2 separate regions of the Homo sapiens genome follow, and region 2 is linked to region 1. The links come from fine-mapping of genetic effects on plasma protein levels. A gene starts in region 1. The other region holds a variant in brackets. All regions are shown on one strand. Distances are from middle to middle.

Region 1 (12,274 bases):
AGTCCAGACATATAAATAAGACCATCTGTCAAACTGAATACCTATAAACAATAGACATTTATTTCTCACAGTGCTGGAGGCTGGGAAATCCTAGGTCAAGGCACCAGTAGATTTAGTGTCTGGCAAGATCCTGCTCTCTGGTTCATGGAAGGCATTTTCTTGCTGCATCCTCACCTGTTAGAAGGGACGAAACAGATCTCTGGGGTCTCTCTTATTGACTAATTTTTTTTAGAGCATAGTCTCACTCTGTCACCCATGCTGGAGTGCAGTGGCACAATCATAGCGCATTGCAGTCTTGAACTCTTGGGCTCAAGAGATCCTCCTTCCTTAACCTCCTGAGTAGCTGGGAAGATGGGCATGTCCTACCACGCCTGGCTAACCTTTTTTTATTTTATAGAGACAAGGTCTCCCTTTGTTGCCTAGGCTGGTCTGGAACTCCTGGGCTCAAGCGATCCTCGTGCCTCAGCCTCCCAAAGTGCTGGGATTACAGGCGTAAGCCACTGTGACTGGTTAGTGTCATTTTTATAGGGGTCATTTGTGCTTCTTTTCCTGTCCTCTATTAATTATTATTATTATTATTATTATTATTATTATTTTTGAGACGAGTCTCACCCTGTCCCCCAGGCTGGAGTGCAGTGGTGCAATCTCAGCTCACTGCAACCTCCGCCTCCCAGGTTCAAGCAATTCTCTTGCTTCAGCCTCCCAAGTAGCTGGGACTACAGGTGCACTCCACCATGCCCAGCTAATTTTTTGTATTTTAGTGGAGACGGGGTTTCATGGTGTTGCCCAGGCTGGTCTCGAACTCCTGAGCTCAGGCAATCCACCCATCTTGGCCTCCCAAAGTGCTGGGATTACAGGCGTGAGCCACTGTGCTCCACCCAATTGATTCATAGAAGCTCTGTTAGCCTCCTATGGCTGCTGTAACAAAGTACTACAGACTGGGTGGGTCAGAACGACAAATGTATTGTCTTACAGTCCAGAGTCCAGAAGTCCAAGATCAAGGTGTCATCAGGGCCATAAACCCATAGAGGACTCCTACCTGGCTCTTCCCAGCAGCAGTGGCTTTCTGGCAATCTTTGGCGGTCCTTGGCTTGCAGCTGCCTAGCTCCACTCTCTTCCTTTGTCTTTACATGGCATTATTCCTGTGTCTCTCTGTCGTCACAGGGCCACCTTCTTCTTTTTTTTGAGATGGAGTCTCACTCTGTCACCCAGGCCGGAGTGCAGTGGCACAGTCTCGGCTCACTGCAGCCTCTGCCTGATGGGTTCTAGCGATTCTCCTGCCTCAGCCTCCCAAGTAGCTGGGTCTACAGGCACGCGCCACCACGCCTGGCTAATTTTTGTATTTTTAGTAGAGATGGGGTTTCATCATATTGGCCAGGCTGGTCTCAAACTCCTGACCTCAGGTGATGCACCCACCTCAGCCTCCCAAAGTGCTGGGATTATAGGCGTGAGCCACCGCGCCCGGCCTAGGGCCACGTTCTTATAAGGATGCCAGTCATAGTGATTTGGGGCCCAACCTACTTCAGTATGACTGCAACTTAACTAATTATATCTGCAACAGCCCTATTTCCAAATAAGGTCACATTCTGAGTACTGGGGGTTAGGACTTCAACCTATGTTTTTCTGGTGTGGAGGGGAAGCAATTCAACCCATAACAGGAGCTCCTTATATATTCAGAATATTAGGCCTTGAATTGCAAAGATGATTTCTGCTGTTGCATCTAGGCGGTGGAATAAAAGAGCTGCAAGGTGCTAGAGGCAAGGAAAGCTTTTTTCTTTACACAAACTCAGTGAATATTATTCCTCTGGTCCCTGCTTCTTTCCAAGTCACCCCTAATACCATGAAGCCAGAGAGAGGCATAGCAAAGAAGGCTGCTGAAGGATGAGATGGAAAGAGGCGGGAGCTGGGAGAGAACAGGATGAAACTTCTATTAATAGCTCCTAGTCTTTGCTTGCCCTACTCCAGGGCAGCACCCCTCAGCATGGTGGGTGTAAGTGTAGGAAACAGAGCCAGAATGCAGGGGTTCAAATCCTGACACTACACTTAGCAAGTCAGTTTATCTTATTTTATTTATTTATTTATTTATTTTTGAGACAGAGTCTCGCCCTGTTGTTTAGGCTGGAGTGCAGTGGCGCGTTCTCGGCTCACTGCAACCTCCACCTCCCGGGTTCAAGTGATTCTCATGCCTCAGCCTCCTGAGTAGCTGGGATTACAGGCACCTGCCACCATACCAGGCTAATTTTTATATTTTTTTAAAGTAGAGACGGGGTTTCACCATGTCGGCCAGGCTGATCTTGAAATCCTGACCTCAAGTGATCCTTCCGCCTCGGCCTCCCAAAGTTCTGGGATTACAAGCATGAGGCACCACACCTGGCCTAACAAGTCAGTTTAGAAGCCAGATGTGGTAGTTCAAGCCTATTAATTCCAACACTTTGGGAGGCCAACACTGGAGGAATGATGGAGGCCACGAGTTCAAGACCAGCCTGGGCAACATAGTGAGACCCCCCACCCTCCCCCACCGTCTCTATTAAAAAAAAAAATTCAATCAGCCAGGCAGCCAGACACGATGGCTCATGCCTGTAATCCCAGCACTTCGGGAGGCCAAGGTGAGTGGATCAACTGAGGACAGGAGTTCAAGCCCAGCCTGGCCAACATAGTGAAACCCCGTCTCTACTAAAATACAAAAATTAGCCGAGCATGATGACAGGCATCTGTAATCCCAGCTACTCAGGAGGCTGAGGCAGGAGAATTGCTTGAACCTGGGATGTGGAGGTTGCAGTGAGCTGAGATTGCACCACTGTACTCCAGCCTGGGCAACAGAGCCAGAATCCACCTCAAAACAAACAAACAAACAAAAAAGCTCTCTAAAATCAGCCAGGCTTGGTCACATGGGCCTGTAGTTCCAGTTACTCAGGAGGCTGAGGCAGGAGGATCACTTGAGGCCAGGAACTGGAGGCCGCAATCAGCTATGATCCTGCCGTTGCACTCCAGCCTAGGCAACAGAGCAAGACCGTGTCTCAAAAAATAAAAAATATCAGCTCAATTTAGGCAAGTGAGTTAACCTCTTGTATTGGTGTCCTATTTTGCTGTAACAAATTAGCTTAGATCTAGTGGCTTAAAACAACAGAAATTTATTCTCTCACAGACTGGAGGTCAGAAGTACAAAATGTGTCTCATGTAATCAAAATCAAGGTGTCAGCAGAGCAGTGCCCTGGTCAAGAGATGTCCGGGGTGAGTGATTTCCTTGTCGTTTTCCAGCAGGAGCTGCATTTCTTACGTTTCTTGGTTCTTGGCCATTTCTCCATCATCAAAGCCCGCAGCAAATACCTTCTGTCTCCCACCCTGTTTTCCTCTGCTTCTCTCCCATGACTTACTTTTCTTCTGTCTACAGTCAAATGTCCCTGTCCCTCCTTCCTCCAGGGGCACTTCTGATTACACTTAGGGCCCATCTGGATAATTAGGAAAATGTTCCTGATTAAGTTCCTTAACTTAATCATATCTGCAAAGACCCTTTTTTCCTTTAAGGTAACACCCATAGGCTCCAGGGCTTAGGACCTGGATATTTTCGGGGACCATCTCTCAGCCCACCACACCTCTCTAATCCTCAGTTTCCGTGTGTGTGTACGAAATAGGATATTTACAGATTCACCAATAATATAGATAATACTCTCAAAACAGTACCCACTGTAACACAAACACAATAAACTTGAGACGGGGAGAAACTCATTTAAAGTCTCCTGTTTTAGGCCGGGCGCCGTGGCTCATGCCTGTAATCCCAGGACTTTGGGAGGTGGAGGTGGGCAGATCGCTTGAGCTCAGGAGTTCAAGACCAGCCTGGAGAACATGGTGAAATGTTGTCTCTACAAAAAATACAAAAATTAGCCAGGCGTGGTAGTGCACGCCTGTCATCCCACCTGCTTGGGCAGCTGAGGTGGGAGGATGGCTTGAGCCCAGGAGGTGGAGGTTGCAGTGAGCTGAGATCTCACCACTGCACTCCAGCATGGACGATAAAGCCAGACGTTATCTCAAAAAAATAAAAAGTCTTCCCTTTGGACCTCAGTTTCTCTGCCTGGAAAACGGGGGAAGAGGGTTATTGGACTCAAGGGTTTACCAGCTCTTCCACTCCCCAGGGAGGCCCTGAGTGGAGAGGTCCTCTACATCTAAGAGGTGTCCAGGCCAGGATCTGAAAGCCACATCAGTGTGGCCTGTTAGGCGTCCCAGAAAGGGGAGGTTATGAGCGATGGCCCTTTCCCTACCATCAGCTCAGCCACCCCCCATCCCCCCCACCTCCCCAACCAGAGAAGGACCTTCCCAGCGGCCAGGCCAGAGGGCAGTCACTTCATCATGGCAGGTGGCAAGAGGATGAGGGAGCCCCAAACAGGTGCACACACACACACACACGCATGCATGCAGGCACACTCACACACATGCATGCATACACACACTCACACATGCACATATGCACACACACACACACAGGCACACAAACACGTGCGCGCACACACACATGCACACACATGCACACAAACACATGTGTGCGCACACACGCATGCACGTACACTCACACACATGCACACGCATGCACACACGCGCACACATGCACACACGCACACACACAGTGTCCCTGTATCTCTGTGTCTATTTTGTGTTCTCTGAAGGCAACTGTGTGTTGTTTTCTCTAACTCCTCTGTCAGTCTCTTATCTTCTCTCTCTCCCTGCTTGCCCATTTTTCTTTCTCCCTGTCCTTGTTCTTCGGTTGCTGTTTTCTGTCTCTCTCACTCCCCCCACACCCCCATCTCAGATTTCCCCTGAGCCAGTCTGTCTGTGGGTCTCTTCTCTCTCCCTCTCCCTCGTTTCCCCACCTCCATCTCTATCCCCAGCTCTCTCTCTCTCTCTCTGTCTCTCCCTCTCTTTGCCTCCTCCTCTATCACCCTCTCTGTCTCTGCCTGAAATTCTCCTCTCCACAGGCTGGGGAAGCCCCCGAAACCCATGGGCCTCACCCATGATCCCGCAGGCAGGCAAGAGCTGGGTGAGGCCCAGGTGAGTCACGAGGAGGAAGGAGCCGACATCCCTGCCGTGTTTCTGGAGAGTGTCCAGGTCCTGATCCCTGCATTTCCCTTCCCTTTACACGTCAGCAGAACCTTACAGGTGTGTGTGTGTGTCACTTGAGGGAGAGACAGAGAGAAAGAATCAGAAAGAGAAACAGAAACAATGACACAGAAAGAGAAAGAGAGCCATGGGGAGAGACAGAGAAAAGGGAGAAGCAGAGATAAAAAGACATGAAGAGAGAGACAAACAGATACAGAGATCGAGGTACAGAGAGAGAAAGTGATAGAGTTGGAGAGAGAGAGAGATAGGCATTGAGAGAGAGAAAGAGGGACAGAGACAAAGAAAACAACAAAACAGAGAGATAGAAAAAGACAAAGACACAGGGAGAGACAGAAATTTCAGGAGGCGAGGGCAGCCTTGGGCAGGGATGAGTGGGCTCTGAAATACCTCTCATTCGTTAAAGAGGAAATTGGCTGAGCATAGTGGCTCACACCTGTAATCCCACCACTTTGGGAGGCCAAGGCGGGAGGATCACTCGAACCCAGCAGTTCAAGACCAGCCTGGGGAACAGACCAAGGCTCCATCTCTACAAAAAACACGAAATATGAGAAAATAGCCAGGCATGGTGGTGCACACCCCTAGGTCCCAACTACTCAGGAGGCTGAAGTGGGAGTTTCGCTTGAGCCCAGGAGTTCAAGGCAGCAGTGAGCTATGATCATGCCTCTGTCTCAAAAAAAAAAAAAAAAAAAAAAAAAGGGAAATTGGGAAATTGTGGCTTAGAGAAGTGAGGTCATCCCACCAGGAAGTGGTAGCAGCACAGCACACAGCTCCGCATGACCCTCAAACCTGAGTTTTCTCTTCACTGAGAGATGCCCCCTACCCACCCCAGACCCATTTCATAGGTGGCAAAGCCGGGGATTGATGGAGTGAAGCCATCTGCCCAGGGTCACCCAGAAGCAAGTGGCTGAGCTGGGTCTCAAGCCTGCTTGGACCAACACCCCAACTGTCTATTTCCCCACCTCATGTACATTCCGATCTAGTTTAGTTTTCACACCAGCCCAAGAGGGATCCCCTTCTCCAGCTGAGAAAACTGAGGCTCAGAAAGAAGAATGTCATTGGCCCAGGGTGACCCAGCCAGGGAAGTGCCCACTTCAGCAGCTGACGCGTGATAACTGTTGACGTCAGACTCAATGACAGGCCTCCATCTCCCTTCCTACTCCAGGAAGAGGTGAATGTCCAGAGTTGCAACAATGATAATACTGGCAGCTATCGCTTTTATTGAGCACATACTATGTACCAGGCACTGTGGCAAGCATCTTAGGAGCATTCTTCTTTTTGTTTGTTTGTTTGTTTGTTTTAGATGGAGTCTAGCTCTGTCGCACAGGCTGGAGTGGAGTGGTGCGATCTCGGCTCACTGCAATCTCTGCCTCCCAGGTTCAAGCAATTCTCGTGCCTCAGCCTCCTGCGTAGCTGGGACTACAGGTGCATGCCACCACACCTAGCTAATTTTTTTGTATTTTTTAGTAGAGACAGGGTTTTGCCATGGTGGCCAGGCTGGTCTTGAACTCCTGACCTCAAGTGATCCACCTGCCTTGGTCTCCCAAAGCACTGGTATTATAGACATGAGCCACCATGCTCAGTCATTTTAGGTGGATTCTTTTACCTCCGCAGTACACCAGCCCTGGGAGGGTGATACTTGCTATCTCTACTTTCCAGATAAGGGGCTTGGGCACAGAGATAGATTAAGTAACCTGCTAGAGGTGACACAGCCAATATGTAGATGCAATTTAGATTTTCACAATCTGAGACCAGCTCCCACACTCTTAACCATTGGGCTATACTACCTCTTAGGAAATTCTCTGGGAGTTCTTTTTTTTTTTTTTTTCAGTCTCACTTTTGTTGCCCAGGCTCGAGTTCAGTAGCTCGATTTTGGCTCACTGCAGCCTCAAACCCCTGGGGCTCAAGTGATCCTCCCACCTCAACCAGAGAGTAGCTGAGACCACAAGTGTGCACCACGACACCTGGCTAATTTTTCTATTTTTCATAGAGACAAGGTCTCGCTATGTTGTCCAGGCTGTAATTTTATTTTTTTATAGATACAAGGTCTTACTATGTTGCCCAGGGTGGTCTCGAACCCCTGAGCTCAAGCAATCCTCCAGCCTTCGCCTCCCAAAGTGCTGAGATTATAGGCATGAACCACTGTGCTCACCATTGGGAGTTTTTTTGTTTTTTGTTTTCTAACCTTATCTTAAAATCATTAGCTTACAGCTTCAATGAGTTAGTAAGAATCACATAGTACAGGCTGGAAGCGGTAGCTCATGTCTGTAATTTCAGCAATTTGGGAGGCCAAGGTGGGTGGATCACCTGTAGTCAGGAGTTAGAGACCAGCCTGGCAGACATGGTGAAACCCCATCTCTACTAACAATACAAAAATTAGGGCCGGGTGCGGTGGCTCACCCCTGTAATCCCAGCACTTTGGGAGGCTGAGGCAGGTTGATCATCTGAAGTCAGGAGTTCGAGACCAGCCTAGCCGACATGGCGAAACCCCATCTCTACTAAGAATACAAAAATTAGGGCTGGGCGCAGTGGTTCAAGCCTGTAATCCCAGCATTTTGGGAGGCTGAGGCGGGTGGATCACCTGAAGTCAGGAGTTCAAGACCAGTCTGGCCAGCATGGTGAAACCCCATCTCTACTAAAAATGCAAAAAATTCGCCAGGCATGGTGGAGAATGCCTGTAATCTCAGCTACTCAGGAGGCTGAGGCAGGAGAACCTCTTGAACCTGGGAGGCAGAAGTTGCAGTGAGCCGAGACCGTGCCATTGCACTCCAGCCTGGGTAACAAGAAAGAAACTCCGACTCAAAAAAAAAAAAAAAATAGCCAGGCATGCATGAGAATCCCTTGAACCTGGGAGGTGGAAGTTGCAGTGAGCCGAGACCACGCCATTGCATCCAGCCTGGGAGACAAAGTGAGACTCTGTCTCAAAAACAACAACAACAACGACAACAAATCACATAGTATAATCATTATTACAGCAGTAGAAGTAGCTACCACTTACTCATCCCCTACGACTCTCTTCCTCTCCTAATCTGTTCCAGCCACACTGACATCTCTTCTGTTCCTAGAATCTCATCAGGCTTCCACCTCAAGGCCTTTGCACTGGTTGTTCCTGCTCCTTGGAAAGGTTCCCTGCCCATCTGCCCTACTTCTTCCCTCACTGCATTCAGCCTCTGCTTGAATGCCACTTGCTCAGGGAACCCCTCCTGGATCACCCACCTAAAACAGCTCACACCTCATTTGCACCCAGATACTTCCTTCAGCCTGCTTTGTTTTCTCCAGTTTGCTTATCCCTCTCAGACAGTGAAAGATTAGATAACACATATCTGCTCCCCACTGTCAACACAACAAAAGGTGGGAACTTTGCTTTGCGTCCTGCTGTGCCCCTAGCTCCTGGACCAGTGCCCAGCACAAAGTAGGTCCTTGGTAGATGTTAAAGGAATGTGTTGAGCCCTCCATTTCGGCCAGCAGCTATTCCAGGCATTGCACCTACATTAAATTGCTCTGTTTAGTTAGATGCATCCTAAGACGGGGAGACAATTTTATCTTTAGTATTTTATTTTACTTAAAAAAAAAAAAAACTTGGCCAGGTGCAGTGGCTCATGCCTGTAATCCCAGCACTTTGGAAGGACAAGGCAGGTGGATCACCTGAGGTCAGGAGTTCGAGACCACCCTGACCAACATGGTGAAACCCCATCTCTACTAAAAATACAAAAATTAGCCGGGTGTGCTGGCGTGCCCCTGTAATCCCAGTTACTCAGGAGGCTGAGGCAGGAGAATTGCATGAACCCAGGAGGCGGAGATTGCAGTGGCCGAGATTGCACCACTGCACTCTAGCCTGGGTGACAGAGTGAGACTTCGTCTCAATAAATAAATAAATAAATAATAAAAAGAAAGAAAAAACTTATTATAAGCCTTTTCAAACCCACAGAAAAGGAGACAGAATGGCATAATATGCCCTTATATACTGATTACCTTTATATAATTGATACAACCATTTGGCTATTTTGCCTTTATTTTCTACTCAAGTATTTATTTATTTATTATTTTTTTGAGACAGGGTCTCGCTCTGTTGCCCAGGTTGGAGTGCAGTGGTGCAATCATAGCTCACTGCAGCTTCCAGTTCCCAGGTTCAAGCGGTCCTCCCACCTTAGCCTCCCAACTACCTAGGACTACAAGTACGGGCCACTGCACCCAGCTAATTTTATTTTATTTTTAATTTCTTTTGGAAAGATGAGGGCTCTTTATGTTTCCCAAGCTGATCTTGAACTCCTGGCCCCAAGTGATCCTCCTGCCTTGGCTTCCCAAAGCATTGGTGTTACAGGCATGAGCCACCTCATCTGACCTCTTCTAAAATATTATAAAATAAATACAGACATCAAAATGAAAACAAAAGAAAAAGAAAAAACAAAACAAAAATCCCCAAAACAACAACAACAAAAAATGCAGACATCAATAACATTCACCACTAAATACTCTAGTAAGCATCTGCAAAAACAAACAAACAAACAAAAACCAGAATCCCACCTAAGCATACAGCCATTGTCGTAACAGTGATATCTACTTTTTTGGCTGAAGTGTCTTTTTTTTTTTTTTTTTTTTTTTCTGTGAGAAGGAGTCTTGTTCTGTTGCCAGGCTGGAGTGCAGTGGCACGATCTCGGCTCACTGCAACCCAACCTCCGCCTCCCGGGTTCAAGCGATTCTCCTGCCTCAGCCTCCTAAGTAACACACACACGCCACTACGCCCGGCTAATTTTTGTATTTTTAGTAGAGACGGGGTTTCACCATTAAGTGTTTTAATGTAGGTGCAATGCCTGGAATAGCTGCTGGCCAAAATGGAGGGCTCAACACATTCCTTTAACATTTACCAAGGACCTACTTCGTGCTGGGCACTGGTCCAGGAGCTGGGGGCACAGCGGGAAGCAAAGCAAGGGTTAAGTGTTTTAAGTGTTTAAGAGATGCATATTTCAGGATGCATCTCTAGATAAGGACATTTTCCAAAATACCAGTATCCCTCCTGACAAAACTAACAAAAATCCTGTTAGCCAAATAATCAGCCACATTCATATTTACCGTCAAAGTTTTTATCCTCATTTTACAGCAGTGGAGAGCGATTGCCCCGGGTCCCACGTTAGGAAGAGAGAGAACTGGGATTTGCACCCAGGCAATCTGGGGACAGAGCTGTGATCACAACTCCATGAGTCAGGGCCGAGCCAGCCCCTTCACCACCAGCCGGCCGCGCCCCGGGAAGGGAAGTTTGTGGCGGAGGAGGTTCGTACGGGAGGAGGGGGAGGCGCCCACGCATCTGGGGCTGACTCGCTCTTTCGCAAAACGTCTGGGAGGAGTCCCTGGGGCCACAAAACTGCCTCCTTCCTGAGGCCAGAAGGAGAGAAGACGTGCAGGGACCCCGCGCACAGGAGCTGCCCTCGCGACATGGGTCACCCGCCGCTGCTGCCGCTGCTGCTGCTGCTCCACACCTGCGTCCCAGGTAGGGGCTGGGTCCCGAACGCCTGCGCCTGGAACAGGGTCTAATTGAGGGGGTTGGGGGTTGTCAGAGGATGAGTTGGAGGAATGCGGTTCAGTCCTCAGCATCCTCCCTAATCAAATAATAGTAATTCTCGTGCTTTGTGCAACGCCACGCGGCGCAGTACCTGGCACTCAGTAGCTAAGGAAATATTAGTGGAGCAAAGGCATTTAGCTTTACATAATTTAGTGAGTGCTTTTTTTTTTTTTTTTTTTTTTTTGACAGAGTCTCACTCTGTCGCCCAGGCTGGAGTGCAGTGGCGCGATCTCGGCTCACTGCAACCTCTGCCGCCCGGGTTCAAGCGATTCTCCTGCCTCAGCCTCCTGGGTAGCTGGGATTACAGGCGCCTGCCATCGCGCCCGGCTAATTTCTGTATTTTTAGTGGAGACCGGGTTTCACTCTGTTAGCCAGGATGGTCTCAATCTCCTGACCTCAGATGATCCACCTGCCTCGGCCTCCCAAACTGCTGGGATTACAGGCGTGAGCCACCGCGCCCGGCCCAAGTGTTCTTTTTTTAAATGGAGTTCTTCGAAGCCTCTTCCTTGCAATTTCAAACTAGGCGATGGGACTTTATTAATTTCGTTTCGCAGAGGAAACTAGGGCACAGAGAGGTTAGATAACTGGCCTAAAATCACACAGCCAGTGCTTGAATACGCAGGATCTGACCCTGCAGCGCCCCCCAGCGCTCTCCACGCTGCTGGGTCTCCCCCTCTGAGAAACGGGGGGACAGGACCCCCTTTTACAAAAGGCCCAAAGGGAGGCTGACTGAGCGGCGCAGAGCCAGTGCTGGAGACCCGGGACTGTCCCTCAGGACCTTTCCCTCTCACTGAGGCGACTCTCACTTACTTCCCCGGAAAATGTGGGGGGCTCTGGGTCGAGGAATTCGAGAAGGAACTGAGTCAGGGCGGGTGGCCACAGGGTGTTGGGGCCGCGATGAATAACCCGGAAAGCGCTCGAGACCGCGGGAGGCCGGGAATGAGTAACAGCTCCGGGATACTCCGAACGCGCAGCTGGAAAGGGATGTCCGGGAAGGCCCGGAGGTCGGGGACCGGGCCTAGGGACTGGGCTGCAATCTCGGGGCGGAGCCTGGGGCGGGGAGAGAGTGTCGGGGAGGAGCCAGAGGGCGGGGCTGGAACCTCAAGGAAGAGCTACGGGAGAGGTTACAGACCGAGGAAGAGCTAGGAGCGGGGCTAGAACCTCGAGGCGGAGCCAGAGGGCGGGGTTATAACCTCGAGGCGTAACCAGAGGGCGGAGTTATAACCTCGGGAGGAGCTAGAAGGTGGGACTAGACTCTTGAGGGGCAGGATTATAACCTCGGGGAGGAGCTAGAGGGCGGGGCTGGAACCTCAAGGAGGGGCTAGGGGCGGGGTTATAAGCTTGGGGAGGAGCTACGGGGCTGGGCTAGGACCTCAAGGGGCCAAGGGGCGGGGGTTACGACCTCGGGGAGGAGCTACAGGGTGGGGCTGAAACCTCAAGAAGGGACTGGGGCGGAGTTATGACCTCAGGGGAAAACTAGGGGCGGGGAGAGCTAAAGGGCGAAGTTAGAATCTCAAGGAGGAGCTAGAGGGAGGGACTAAAGCCTCGAGGAGGAGCTAGGGGCGGGGTTATGGCATCGGGGAGGAGCTAGGGGGCGGGAAGATAAGGTCA
Region 2 (12,274 bases), 23 kb after region 1:
TTCTAAGGGCCCGAGTGCAGTGGCTCATGCCTGTAATCCCAGCACTTTGGGAGGCCAAGGCATGTAGATCACTTGAGGTTAGGAGTTCGAGACCAGCCTGGCCAACATGGTGAAACCCTGTCTCTACTAAAAATACAAAAATTAGCCCAGCGTGATGGTGCACGCCTGTAGTCCCAGCTATTCGGGAGGCTGAGGCAGGAGAATCACTTGAACCCGGGGAGTGGAGGTTGCAGTGAGCCAAGATGGTGCCACTGCGTTCCAGCCTGGGTGACGGAGTGAGACTCTGTCTCGGGAAAAAAAAAAAAAAAAAGGAAAGAAATGTTTCTAGGGCCATGTGGAGATGCTGCACTGGGGTGAGTAGGGGGTGACAAGAATGGAAACCCAGAGGCTAGGGAGGTAGCTGGAGTTGAAGGAGGTCTGAGCTGGACTGGTCCATGGGGCTGGAAAGGAGGGGGTGGATTCTAGAAAGATTCAGCAGGCAGAATAGGCAGGGCTCAATGACTGGCTGCAGGGTGGGATAAGGAGGAATTGATTTTGAGTGAGTCCTTGCAGAGCTGGGGCTCCAGGACTGTCCCCATGGAGTCTCACTCCCCTCCCCCTCTTCCAAACAGGCCGGGCTGTCACCTATTCCCGAAGCCGTTACCTCGAATGCATTTCCTGTGGCTCATCAGACATGAGCTGTGAGAGGGGCCGGCACCAGAGCCTGCAGTGCCGCAGCCCTGAAGAACAGTGCCTGGATGTGGTGACCCACTGGATCCAGGAAGGTGAAGAAGGTGAGCCCCAACCTGCTGGCAACTCCTCCTCCCTGCTCTGCTCCTCCCTAAGACTGCACTTAACAAACAACCCCAAAGTAACAGGGATGTCAGCAAGGGACTAAGTTCTCTCATACACAAGAGGTCCAGTGATAGGAAGTCCAGGGCCACAAGGACAGGTCCAGAGTCACCAGGAACCCAGATGCCTTCTCATTTCTTTTTATTTATTTATTTATTTATTTTTTGAGACAGAGTCTTGCTCTCTGTCACCCAGGCTGGAGTGCAATGGCATGATCTTGGCTGGCTGCAACCTCCGCCTCCCAGGTTCAAGTGATTCTCCTGCCTCAGCCTCCTGAATAGCTGGGATTACAGGTGTGCATCACCACGCCTTGCTAATTTTTGTATTTTTAGTAGAGATGGGGTTTCACCATGTTGGTCAGGCTGGTCTCAAACTCCTGACCTTGTGATCCACCCGCCTCAACCTCCCAAAGTGCTGGGATTACAAGCGTGAGCCACCACGCCCGGCCACCCTCTTGTTTCTTACACATTACTTCCATTCTCAAAATGCCTCATAGTCTAAAATGGCTGCCAGAGCTCCGGGTCTCACATCTAAGTTCCAGGAAGGAGGAAGAAGGAAAGAAGGGACAAAAAAGGGGGCACTCCTCCTTTTGTAAGGGTTCTCCTTTCTGGAAGTCCCATAAAGCACTTCTATTTATATCACATTAGTCCGAACTTCATCACATGACTACCTGGAGAGGCTGGAATATGTAGTTTTCGACAAGATCTATGACTGTTCTAGATAAAATGAGGGTCTTATGATGAAGGGTGAAGTAGAGAATGGTTGAATGCCTGCTATTTCGGGCAAATCCCATCTTAGTCCCTCATTCACAATCTGACATCTGACCTCTGTCCCCTGGCCCCCATAGGGCGTCCAAAGGATGACCGCCACCTCCGTGGCTGTGGCTACCTTCCCGGCTGCCCGGGCTCCAATGGTTTCCACAACAACGACACCTTCCACTTCCTGAAATGCTGCAACACCACCAAATGCAACGAGGGCCCAAGTAAGGAACGGGAGACACAGGCAAGGCCTGGGGTCGGGCAGGGGCATGCACTCAGGCAGACAGCTGCGCAGTCACTCTCTGGCAATCAAGTCCTCTCTGGGCCTCTGTTTGCTTTTCTGAAAAATGGGAGTATCAGGCCTTTTTTTTTTTTTTTTTTTTTTTGAGACGGAGTCTCACTCTGTTGCCCAGGCTGGAGTGCAATGGCGTGATCTCCGCTCACTGTAAACTTCGCCTCACGAGTTCAAGCGATTCTCCTGCTTCAGCCTCCTGAGTAGCTGGGATTACAGGTGCCCACCATCACCCCTGGCTAATTTTTCTATTTTTAGTAGAGATGGGGGTTTCACCATGTTGGCCAGGCTGGTCTCGAACTCCTGACCTCAAGTGATCTGTCTGCCTCAGCCTCACAAAGTGCTGGGGTAACAGGCATGAGCCACTGCACCCAGCCAGGCCTTTCTTCAAAGAAGAACTTCGTAAGGATTCAATGATACTATCAGCCCTCGCCAAGACCTGTGCTTCCTGTCTCTTTTGTCTCTCTCAAATTTTCCCACTCCTCCCCTGCTCCACTGCCACCACCTGGGCTGAGCCACGCTGACTTCTTGCCCAGGTTGTTGCAATGACCTCCTCTCTGGTCTCCCTGCTTCCACTCCTGCCACCCTACAGCCAAGGCTCAACCCAGCAGCGAGTGATTTTTTGGGGGGTATGGGGGGGACAGGGTCTCGCTCTGTCACCCAGGCTGGAGTGCACTGGCATGATCATGGCTCACTGCAGCCTCAAACTCCTGGGCTCAGGAATTCTTCCCACCTAAGCTACTGGAGTAGCTGCGACTACAGGTGCATGCCACCGTACCCAGCTAATTTTGTATTTTTGGTAGAGATGGGGTCTTGCTTTGTTGCCCAGGCTGGTCTTGAACTCCTGGGCTTGGCCTCCCAAAGTGTTAGGATTACAGGCATGAGCCACCATGCACCACCAATTTTTTATTTTTTAATGTAAATCAGATCATGTCACCCTCCTTTCTCAGGCACTTCAATGACTTCCCCTTCCTCTTAGAATAAGATCCAAAGACCTTATTCTGTTGGCCTATGTAATCTGGCACCTGTCTGCCTCACAGTCTTTGTTTAGATTCGTTTTTGGGGTTTTGTGTTTTCTTTAGACATAGGGTCTTGCTCTGCCACCCAGGCTGGGGTGCAGTGGCACAATCACGGCTCACTGCCACCTCAAACTCCTGGGCTCCAGTGATCCTCCCACCTCAGCTTCCCAAGTAGCTGGGACTACAGATGCGCATCATTGCACCCAGCTACATTTTTTTTTTTTTTCTGAGATGGAGTCTTGCGCTGTTGCCCAGGCTGGAGTGCAGTGGCGCGATCTTGGCTCACTGCAAGCTCCGCCTCCCGGGTTCACGCCATTCCCCTGCCTCAGCCTCCCGAGTGGCTGGGACTACAGGCACCCACCACCATGCCTGGCTAATTTTTGTATTTTTAGTAGAGACAGGGTTTCACTGTGTTAGCCAGGATGATCTCGATCTCCTGACCTCATGATCCGCCTGACTCAGCCTCCCAAAGTGCTGGGATTACAGGCGTGAGCCACCACGCCCGGCCGCACCCAGCTAAATTTTTAAAACTTTTGTAGAGATGGGGTCTCACTATGTTGCCGGGGCTGGTATCAAACTCCCAGGCTCAAGCAATCCTTCTGCCTTGACCTCCCAAAGTGCTGGGATTACAGGCATGAGCCGCTGCACCTGGCCTTCATTTAGTTTCTTTCTTTCTTCCTTTCTTTCTTTTTTTAGATGGAGTCTCGCTCTGTCAGCCAGGCTGGAGGGCAGTGGCGTGATCTTGGCTCACTGCAACCTCCGCCTCCCAGGTTCAAGCGATTCTCCTGCCTCGGCCTCCCAAAGTGCTGGGATTACAGGCATGAGCCGCTGTGCTGACGTTCATTTGGTTTCTATAATCACCAAAGCCCATCTGGTCTCATGGCCCTTGCAGATGAATATCCTCCCTTAGAACACATCTTCCCCAAGAGTTCACCCTGCTGGCAACTTCTCATCCATTAGGCCTCAGCTTTAATGTATCATCTTCAGGGATGCTTTCACTGTCCCTCCCCTCCAGTGTAATCTAGATCCCTGTCTCTATTACCCAGCACTGTCAACAGATAGAAATGTTCCCTATCTGTCCTGTCCAATATTACAGCCACCACTGTATGTGGTCAGTGAGCACTTGAAATGTGAACTGAATTTTAAGATTCGATTTAATATTAATTTATTTAAATGTAAACAACCACATGTGGCCAGTGGCTACCAGATTGGGTAGTGTAGCTCTAAATTGTAAATTCTGGCTGGGCACAGTGGCTCACACCTGTAATCCCAGCACTTTTGGAGGCGGAGGCGGGAGGGTCGCCTGAGGCCAGGAGTTTGAGACAAGCCTAGGCAACATAGCAAGACTCCGTCTCAAAAAAAATTTTTTAGTAATAATAATAGTAATAACTTGTAAGTTCTGGCCAGGTACAGTGGCTCACACCTGTACTCCGAGAACATTGGGAGGCTGAGGCAGGCAGATTGCTTGATCCCAGGAGTTTGAGACCAGCCTGAGTAATGTGTCAAAACCCCATCTCTACAAAAAACAGAAAAATTGGCTAGGCATGGTGGTGCACGCCTGTAGTCCCAGCTACTCAGGAGGCTGATGTGGAAGAATCTCTTGAGCCGGGGTGGTCGAGGCTGCAGTGAGCTACAATTGCGCCACTGCACTCCAGCCTGGGCAACAAACTGAGACCCTGTATCAAAAATAAATAAATAAGTTGTAACTTTTGTGAGAGCAAGGACAGTTTCATCTTACATAGTTTTACCCAGCACCCAGCACGGTGCCTGGCCAGAAATGGGACTCATGGGGAGTTGAAAGTTGGGGTTTCTCTCAAGCCCTCGAAAACCATCCCCCTCCAAATGCCATTCAGACGCCTGACCACAAGGTGGCTCCATGACATCTCTGGCTCGGAGTGGAAGTCCTGGGGAGGTCATTCAAGGAAGTGGAGATCCAAGCACTAATTTTCTTGGTCTCTGTGTCTCTGGTCTTCTCCTAAGTCCTGGAGCTTGAAAATCTGCCGCAGAATGGCCGCCAGTGTTACAGCTGCA[A/G]GGGGAACAGCACCCATGGATGCTCCTCTGAAGAGACTTTCCTCATTGACTGCCGAGGCCCCATGAATCAATGTCTGGTAGCCACCGGCACTCACGGTGAGGCCCTCTCCGAGGCTGGGAGGGAACACTTATTGGGGGTGGAGAGTTCCGCAAGAGATTGACTTCCAGTTAAGCTGGAGTTAACTGTGGTGGGTCTCCCTGTGGAAAAGGTGGGATTTCCTTCAGGTGGGTGAATATTATTGTAAGGAATTAGGACTTGTCCATCAGGATGTGGACATTTTTGCCATGGAAAAGTGGAATTCCGGCTGGGTGCGGTGGCTGAAGCTTGTACTCTCAGCACTTTGGGAGGCTGAGGCCGGAGGATCTCTTGAGGCCAGGAGTTTGAGACCAGCCTGGGCAACATAGCAAGACCCCCATCTCTACAAAAAGAAAAATGGAATTCTTTGGTGGATTTCTCGTGGGTTGTGGGGATTTGCTGAAGACATCTTGGGCTTTCATCCTGTGGTGTCCTGGAAAGGTCTCTGTATTCCAGTGGTTCTCAAACTTTTTGGTCTCAACTTCTTCATGCTTTTAAAAATTATTTTTGGCCAGGTGTGGTGGCTCACGCCTGTAATTGCAACACCTTGGGAGGGTGAGGAGGAGAACCACTTGAGGTCAGGAGTATGAGAGCAAGCCTGGCCACCATGGTGAAACCCTGTCTCTACAAAAAATTACAAAAATTAGCTGGGTGTGGTGGCGTGCACCTATAACCCCAGCTACTCAGGGGGCTGAGGCACGAGAATCACTTGAACCCAGGAGGAGGAGGTTGCAGTGAGTGGGGATCACCCCACTGCACTCCAGCCTGGATGACAGAGGGAGACTTTGTCTCAAAAAAAAAAAAAAACTCTTTATTGTTTATATCAGTGATTTCTATAGATAAATGCCACATTAAAATTAAAACTGAGAACCAGGAGTGGTGGCTCACGCCTGTAATCCTAGCACTTTGGGAGGCCGAGGTGGGTAGATCACCTGAGGTCGGGAGTTCAAGACCAGCCTGACCAACATGGTGAAACCCCATCTCTACTAAAAATACAAATTAGTCGGGCATGGTGGCACATGCCTATAATCCCAGCTACTCGGGAGGCTGAGGCAGGAGAATCACTTGAACCTGGGAGGCAGAGGTTGCGGTGAGCCAAGATTGTGCCATTGCACTCCAGCCTGGGCAACAAGAGTGAAACTCCGTCCCAAAAAATAAAATAAAATAAAATTAAATTAAAATTAAAACTGAGAAATCTTTTTTTTTTTTTTTTGAAATGGAGTCTTGCTCTGTCGCCAGGCTAGAGTGCAGTGGCATGGTCTCAGCTCACTGCAACCTCCCCCTCCTGGGTTCAAGCAATCCTCCTGCCTCAGCTTCCTGCATAGCTGGGATTACAGGCATGAGCCACCATGCCCAGCTTATTTTTGTAATTTTAGTAGAGACGGGGTTTCACCATGTTGGCCAGGATGGTCTCGATCTCCTGACCTCATGATCTGCCTGCCTCGGCCTCCCAAAGTGCTGGGATTACAGATGTGAGCCACCGTGCCCAGCCAAAACTGAGAAATCTTTAAAGATTTATTTATGAATTCATCTTATAACAATAAAAACTCATTACACATTAAGATAAATAACATTTTAATGAAAAATAAGTATAGTTTCCAAAGAAAAAATGTAATGATAGCCAGGCATGGTGGCTCATGCCTATAATCCCAATACTTTGGGAGGCCAAGGTGGGCGGGTCACTTAAGCCTAGGGATTTGAGACCAGCCTGGGCAACATAGCAAGATCCTGTCTCTACAGAAAATACAAAAGTTAGCTGGGCATGGTGGTGCATGCCTGTAGTCCCAGCTGCTTGGGAGGCTGAGGTGGGAGGGTCACTTGAGCCTGGGAGGTGGAGGTTGCAGTGAACGGAGATTGCACCACTGCACTGCGGCCTGGGCAACAGAGCGAGACCCTGTCTTAAAAAAACAAACAAAGAAACAACAAAAAAAAAACCAGCCAGGCGCGGTGGCTCACGCCTGTAATACCAGCACTTTGGGAGGCCAAGGCGGGCAGATCACAAGGTCAGGAGTTCGAGACCAGCCTGGCCAATATGGTGAAACCCCGTCTCTACTAGAAATACAAAAATTAGCTGGGCATGGTGGTCGCGCCTGTAGTCCCAGCTACTTGGGAGGCTGAGGCAGAAGAATTGCTTGAACCCGGGAGGCAGAGGTTGCAGTGAGCCGAGATCGTGCCACTGCACTCCAGCCTGGGTGACAGAGTGAGACTCCATCTCAAAAAAAAAAACAAAAAAAAAGCGTAATGAGAAAACTGGCATTATTTTGCTGTGTTGCACATCTCTTTAATGTCCAGCTTAATAGAAGACAGCTGGGTCCTCATGGAAGCTTCTGCTTTCAGTCTCTTGCAATATCACATGTCCTGGAGTTTTTGGAAAAGCCCATTGTACACTTATGAGAGTGAAAAAGCCATGTGAAATCACAGATCTCCTGAAAGGGTCTCTGGGGTCCCTGAGCCACACTTTAAGAACCGCTGCTCGCTTCCTTTCTTTCTTTTTTTTTCTTTCCTTTTCTTTCTCTGTCTCTCTTTCCCTTTCTTTCTTTCTTTCTTCCTTCCTTCCTCCCTTCCTTCCTTCTTTCCCTTCTCCTTCCTTCCTTCCTCCCTCTCTCTCTCTTTCTTTCTTTTCTTTCCCTTCTTCCCTTCCTCCCTTCCTTCTTCCCTCCCTCCCTCCCTCCCTTCCTTCCTTTCTTTCTTTTTATTTGTTTTTTGAAACAGGGTCTCACTCTGTTACCCAGGCTGGAGTGCAGTGGCGTGATCATAACTCACCACAGCCTCCATCTCCTGAGCTCAAGTGATCCTCTCATCTCAGCCTCCCAAGTAGCTGGGACTACAGCTGTTTTTTTCTTTTTTATGTTTGTAGAAACAGAGTTTTGCTATGTTGTCCAGGCTGGTCTGGAACTCCTGGGCTCAAGCTATCCTCTCTCCTTGGCTTCCCAAGGTGTTGAGATTACAGGCATGAGCCACCACACCTGGCCCTGAGAACTGCTGCTTTCTCTAGGTGGTAGTGAAGGTGGCACCCACTGCAAGGTGGCAGGTCACCTACTGGAGAATTCCAGTCCTGGGCCCAGGAGCTGGAAGTCTCACTCCGTCTTCTCTTTCCTCAGAACCGAAAAACCAAAGCTATATGGTAAGAGGCTGTGCAACCGCCTCAATGTGCCAACATGCCCACCTGGGTGACGCCTTCAGCATGAACCACATTGATGTCTCCTGCTGTACTAAAAGTGGCTGTAACCACCCAGACCTGGATGTCCAGTACCGCAGTGGGGCTGCTCCTCAGCCTGGCCCTGCCCATCTCAGCCTCACCATCACCCTGCTAATGACTGCCAGACTGTGGGGAGGCACTCTCCTCTGGACCTAAACCTGAAATCCCCCTCTCTGCCCTGGCTGGATCCGGGGGACCCCTTTGCCCTTCCCTCGGCTCCCAGCCCTACAGACTTGCTGTGTGACCTCAGGCCAGTGTGCCGACCTCTCTGGGCCTCAGTTTTCCCAGCTATGAAAACAGCTATCTCACAAAGTTGTGTGAAGCAGAAGAGAAAAGCTGGAGGAAGGCCGTGGGCCAATGGGAGAGCTCTTGTTATTATTAATATTGTTGCCGCTGTTGTGTTGTTGTTATTAATTAATATTCATATTATTTATTTTATACTTACATAAAGATTTTGTACCAGTGGACAAGGCCAGGTATGCCCTTCTTTGTAGTGTCTATCTTTGGGAGGATAAATGGTGGGGGACACCTTTTCACAGGCTCCTGGAATCAGGGGTCATGTTTGAGGCCCCTGCCTAGGTTGGAAGTCCTCCTGGGGGCTGCCTCCACATCTATTTCTGGACTCCAAATGCTGACAGAGCAGGAGCACTGCCATCTTGAACAAACACCACCATTCTTAGTTCCTCTTGATTAAAAATCGGCTAAATCCGGACGTGGTGGCGGGTGCCTGTAGTCCCAGCTATTCGGGAGGCTGAGGCAGGAGAATGGCGTCAATCCGGGAGGTGGAGCTTGCAGTGAGCCGAGATTGCACCACTGCACTCCAGCCTGGGTGACAGAGCAAGACTCTGTCTCAAAAAAAAATCAGCTAAATCCAGCCCCAAAACATCAGCCTAATGGCTACCATCAGCATAACCAGAAACATTCCAACCCTAAGATAAACCCCTCTCTGACCAGAAACATGCCAACCCCCAGATAGCCTCCCTTCCGACCAGAGACTTTCCAACCCCACAATAAACTTTTCCTCACATGAAAACATTCCGAACCTAGATAAGCACCCCCTTCCAAAACTCTTAAATATCCTTAGTCTGTAAAAAAAAAAAAAAAAAAGGGCTCTCTAACCTAACTCAGCCAAAAGCCCCCCTCAGGTTGGTTTTCTCTAAAATAAACCTGTCCTTCACCGTCAAGCCACATTTCATGTTTCTTTCCTTTTCCTTTTTCTTTTCTTTTCTTTTCTTTTTTTGAGATGGAGTTTCACTCTTGTTGCCCAGGCTGGAGTGCAATGACACAATCTCAGCTCACCACAACCTCCACCTCCTAGTTCAAGGGATTCTCCTGCCTCAGCCTCCCAAGTAGCTGGGATTACAGGCATGCACCACCACACCCGGCTAATTTTGTATTTTTAGTAGAGACAGGGTTTCTCCATGTTGTTCAGGCTGGTCTCAAACTCCCAACCTCAGGTGATCTGCCCACCTTGGCCTCCCAAAGTGCTAGGATTACAGGCATGAGCCACCGTGCCTGGCCTCCTCTTTCTTTAATTCTTACAAATGCAAGCTTCCAGATCACACACTGAACACTAACCTTCTAGTCTTCTCCTAAACTTCAAAGGTTGCAACTATTTTGTTGTTCTAAGGAGACATCCCCACATTTCCCAGCATGCTTTGGGAAAGGAGACGGATAGAAGATAACCTGATGGCCAGAACTCCCTGCATGCACTGCAGTGAGGAATAAGGACAGGAGTGCACTTCCCCTGATGTGCTGGGGACCGGGGATAAAGGCTGGGCTCTATTTCCCGGGATGCCTCAGGACTGTCAGAAAAAGAGACAGAACTACCATTTCAATGGCACTCTAGGAGCACAATATTGAAAAATTCATGTTCTTCTCATCATTTGCTAAGGCAACCCATGGAGACAAAAATTACATTCCCCATCAAATCTTGTGGCTAATGAAGAAAAAATAAGATATCTTCGGCTGGCTGTGGTGGTTCACGCCTGTAATCCCAGCACTTTGGGAGGCCGAGGTGGGCAGATCACTTGAGGCAGGAGTTTGAGACCAGCCTGGCCAATTTGGCAAAACCCCGTCTCTACTAAAATTACAAAAATTAACCGGGTAAGGTGGTGGGTGCCTGTAACTCCAGCTACTCGGAAGGCTGAGGCAGGAGAATCGCTTGAACCCAGGAGGAGGAGGTTGTAGTGAGCCAAGATCACACCACTGCATGACACAGTGAGACTATCCCCAAAAAAAAAAAAAAAAAAAAAAAGACATCTTCCATGGTATTTGGGGGCAGGTGAGGGACAAGGTTCTTGTTTAGGGCTTTCTCTAATGACATATCACCACCTGTCACTGTAGTGGCTTAAAGAAGTGAGGTCTGTACTTCTGCCTCTTGAATATGAGTGACTCTGTGACTGCTTTGACCAGTAGAATGTGGTGGAAGTTTTGCTGTGCTATGTTCTGGAACCAAGTTTTAAGAAACTTTCATTTTTCACTTTCTGAATCTTAGAACGCTCACTCTGGGGAAGCTGGTTGCCATGTAAAAGTACTACTGCCCTGAGACCACCATGCTGTGAGGAAGCCCAAGCTACTCATGTATAAATGCCATGTGGAGATAGAGCCCCAGATGTTTCAGCCATCTCAGCCCAGGCACCAGACAAGTGGGTGAAGAAGCCACCTTGGACATGTAGCCCCAGCAGATGTGATATAGAGAAGAAACAGGAAACTTGGCTATATTAGTTTCCTAGGGCTGCCTGTGATAAATTATTACAAACTTTATAAACTAACACATTGTGTGCCTATATCAAAACATCATGGAAGGACAGGCACAGTGGCTCATGCCTGTAGTCCTAGCACTTTGGGAGGGTGAGAAAGGAAGATCTCTTGAGCTCAGGAGTTCAAGATCAGCCTGGGCAACACAGTGAGACCTCATCTCCACTAAAAATAAAAAAAAATTGGCTGGATGTGGTGGGGCATGCCTGTGGTCCTAGTTACATGGGAGGCTGAGGCAGGAGGATCCCTTGAGCCCGGGAGGTCAAGGCTGCAGTGAGCCATGATCCCACCACTGTACTCCAGCCTGGGCAACAGAGCCAGACTCTGTCTCCAAAAAAAAAACACTAAAACCCAAAACCATATTACATATGTCCTGTAAATATACACCACTATTATGTATTCATAATACTTAAAAATAAAAAATTAAAAACACACACACACAAATCTTACAAGCAAGGTGGCTTAAAACCACAGAAACTTGGCCGGGTTTGGTGGCTCATGCCTGTAATCCCAGCAATTCGGGAGGCTGAGGCGGGCGGATCACGAGGTCAGGAGATCGAGACCATCCTGGCTAACATGATGAAACCCTGTCACTATTAAAAATACAAAAAATTAACTGGGCGTGGTGGTGGGTGCCTGTAGTCCCAGCTACTCGGGAGGCTGAGGCAGGAGAATGGCGTGAACCCGGGAGGCGGAGCTTGCAGTGAGTCGAGATCATGCCACTGCACTCCAGCCTGGGCAACAGAGCGAGACTCCACTCAAAAAAAAAAAAAAAACAAAACAAAACACACACACACACACACAGAAACTTAGGCCAGGTGTGGTGGCTTACACCTGTAATCCCAGCACTTTGGGAGGCCAAGGCAGGCATATCACTTGAGGCCAGGAATTTGAGACCAGCCTGGCCAACACAGTGAAACCCTGTCTCTACTAAAAGTACAAAAAAAAAAAAAAAAAATAGCCGGCTGTGATGGCGCTCCTCTGTAATTCCAGCTACTTGGGAGGCTGAGGCATAAGAATCACTTGAATCTGAGAAGCGGAGTTTGCAGTGAGCCGAGATTGAACCACTGCACTCCAGCCTGGGCAACAGAATGAGCCTCTGTCTAAAACACATACACACACACACACACACACACACACACACACACACACACACACACACTAGAAACTTGTTCTCTCACAGTTCTGAATGCTAAATGTCCAAAACCAAGGTGTTGAAGTCTCACGGGAAGAGCCACGCTTTTAAAGCGTCAGGGGAAGAGCCATGCTTTTAAAGTCTCCGGGGCTGACACCTGTAATCCCAGCACT

The links. PIP is the posterior inclusion probability: the model's chance that the variant is causal. Protein levels are from the aptamer-based SomaScan assay of Sun 2018.
Region 2: its variant is fine-mapped to the plasma level of the PLAUR protein (Sun 2018, PIP 0.95). The variant lies in the coding sequence of PLAUR. If it changes the protein, the assay may bind it differently, which can mimic a change of level.

What each region holds. Positions count from the first base shown.
Region 1 is chr19:43,668,383-43,680,656 of GRCh38, reverse strand. PLAUR (plasminogen activator, urokinase receptor) reads left to right here and starts at 10,488. Exons shown (of 7, transcript NM_002659.4): 1 at 10,488-10,591. The coding sequence starts at 10,537. It overlaps LOC124904724 (a long non-coding RNA gene), which reads right to left and starts at 11,893. Exons shown (of 3, transcript XR_007067264.1): 1 at 11,474-11,893; 2 at 10,177-10,631; 3 at 39-174. RefSeq lists enhancers at 841-1,340, 5,124-5,223, 10,420-10,719 and silencers at 11,640-11,719, 11,760-11,989.
Region 2 is chr19:43,644,978-43,657,251 of GRCh38, reverse strand. PLAUR (plasminogen activator, urokinase receptor) reads left to right here. Exons shown (of 7, transcript NM_002659.4): 4 at 612-773; 5 at 1,679-1,813; 6 at 4,881-5,027; 7 at 8,109-8,673. The coding sequence ends at 8,362. Among named protein-coding and RNA genes, the nearest start is that of CADM4, 11 kb to the right of the region's middle. The variant A/G (reference allele first, on the strand shown) is at 4,932.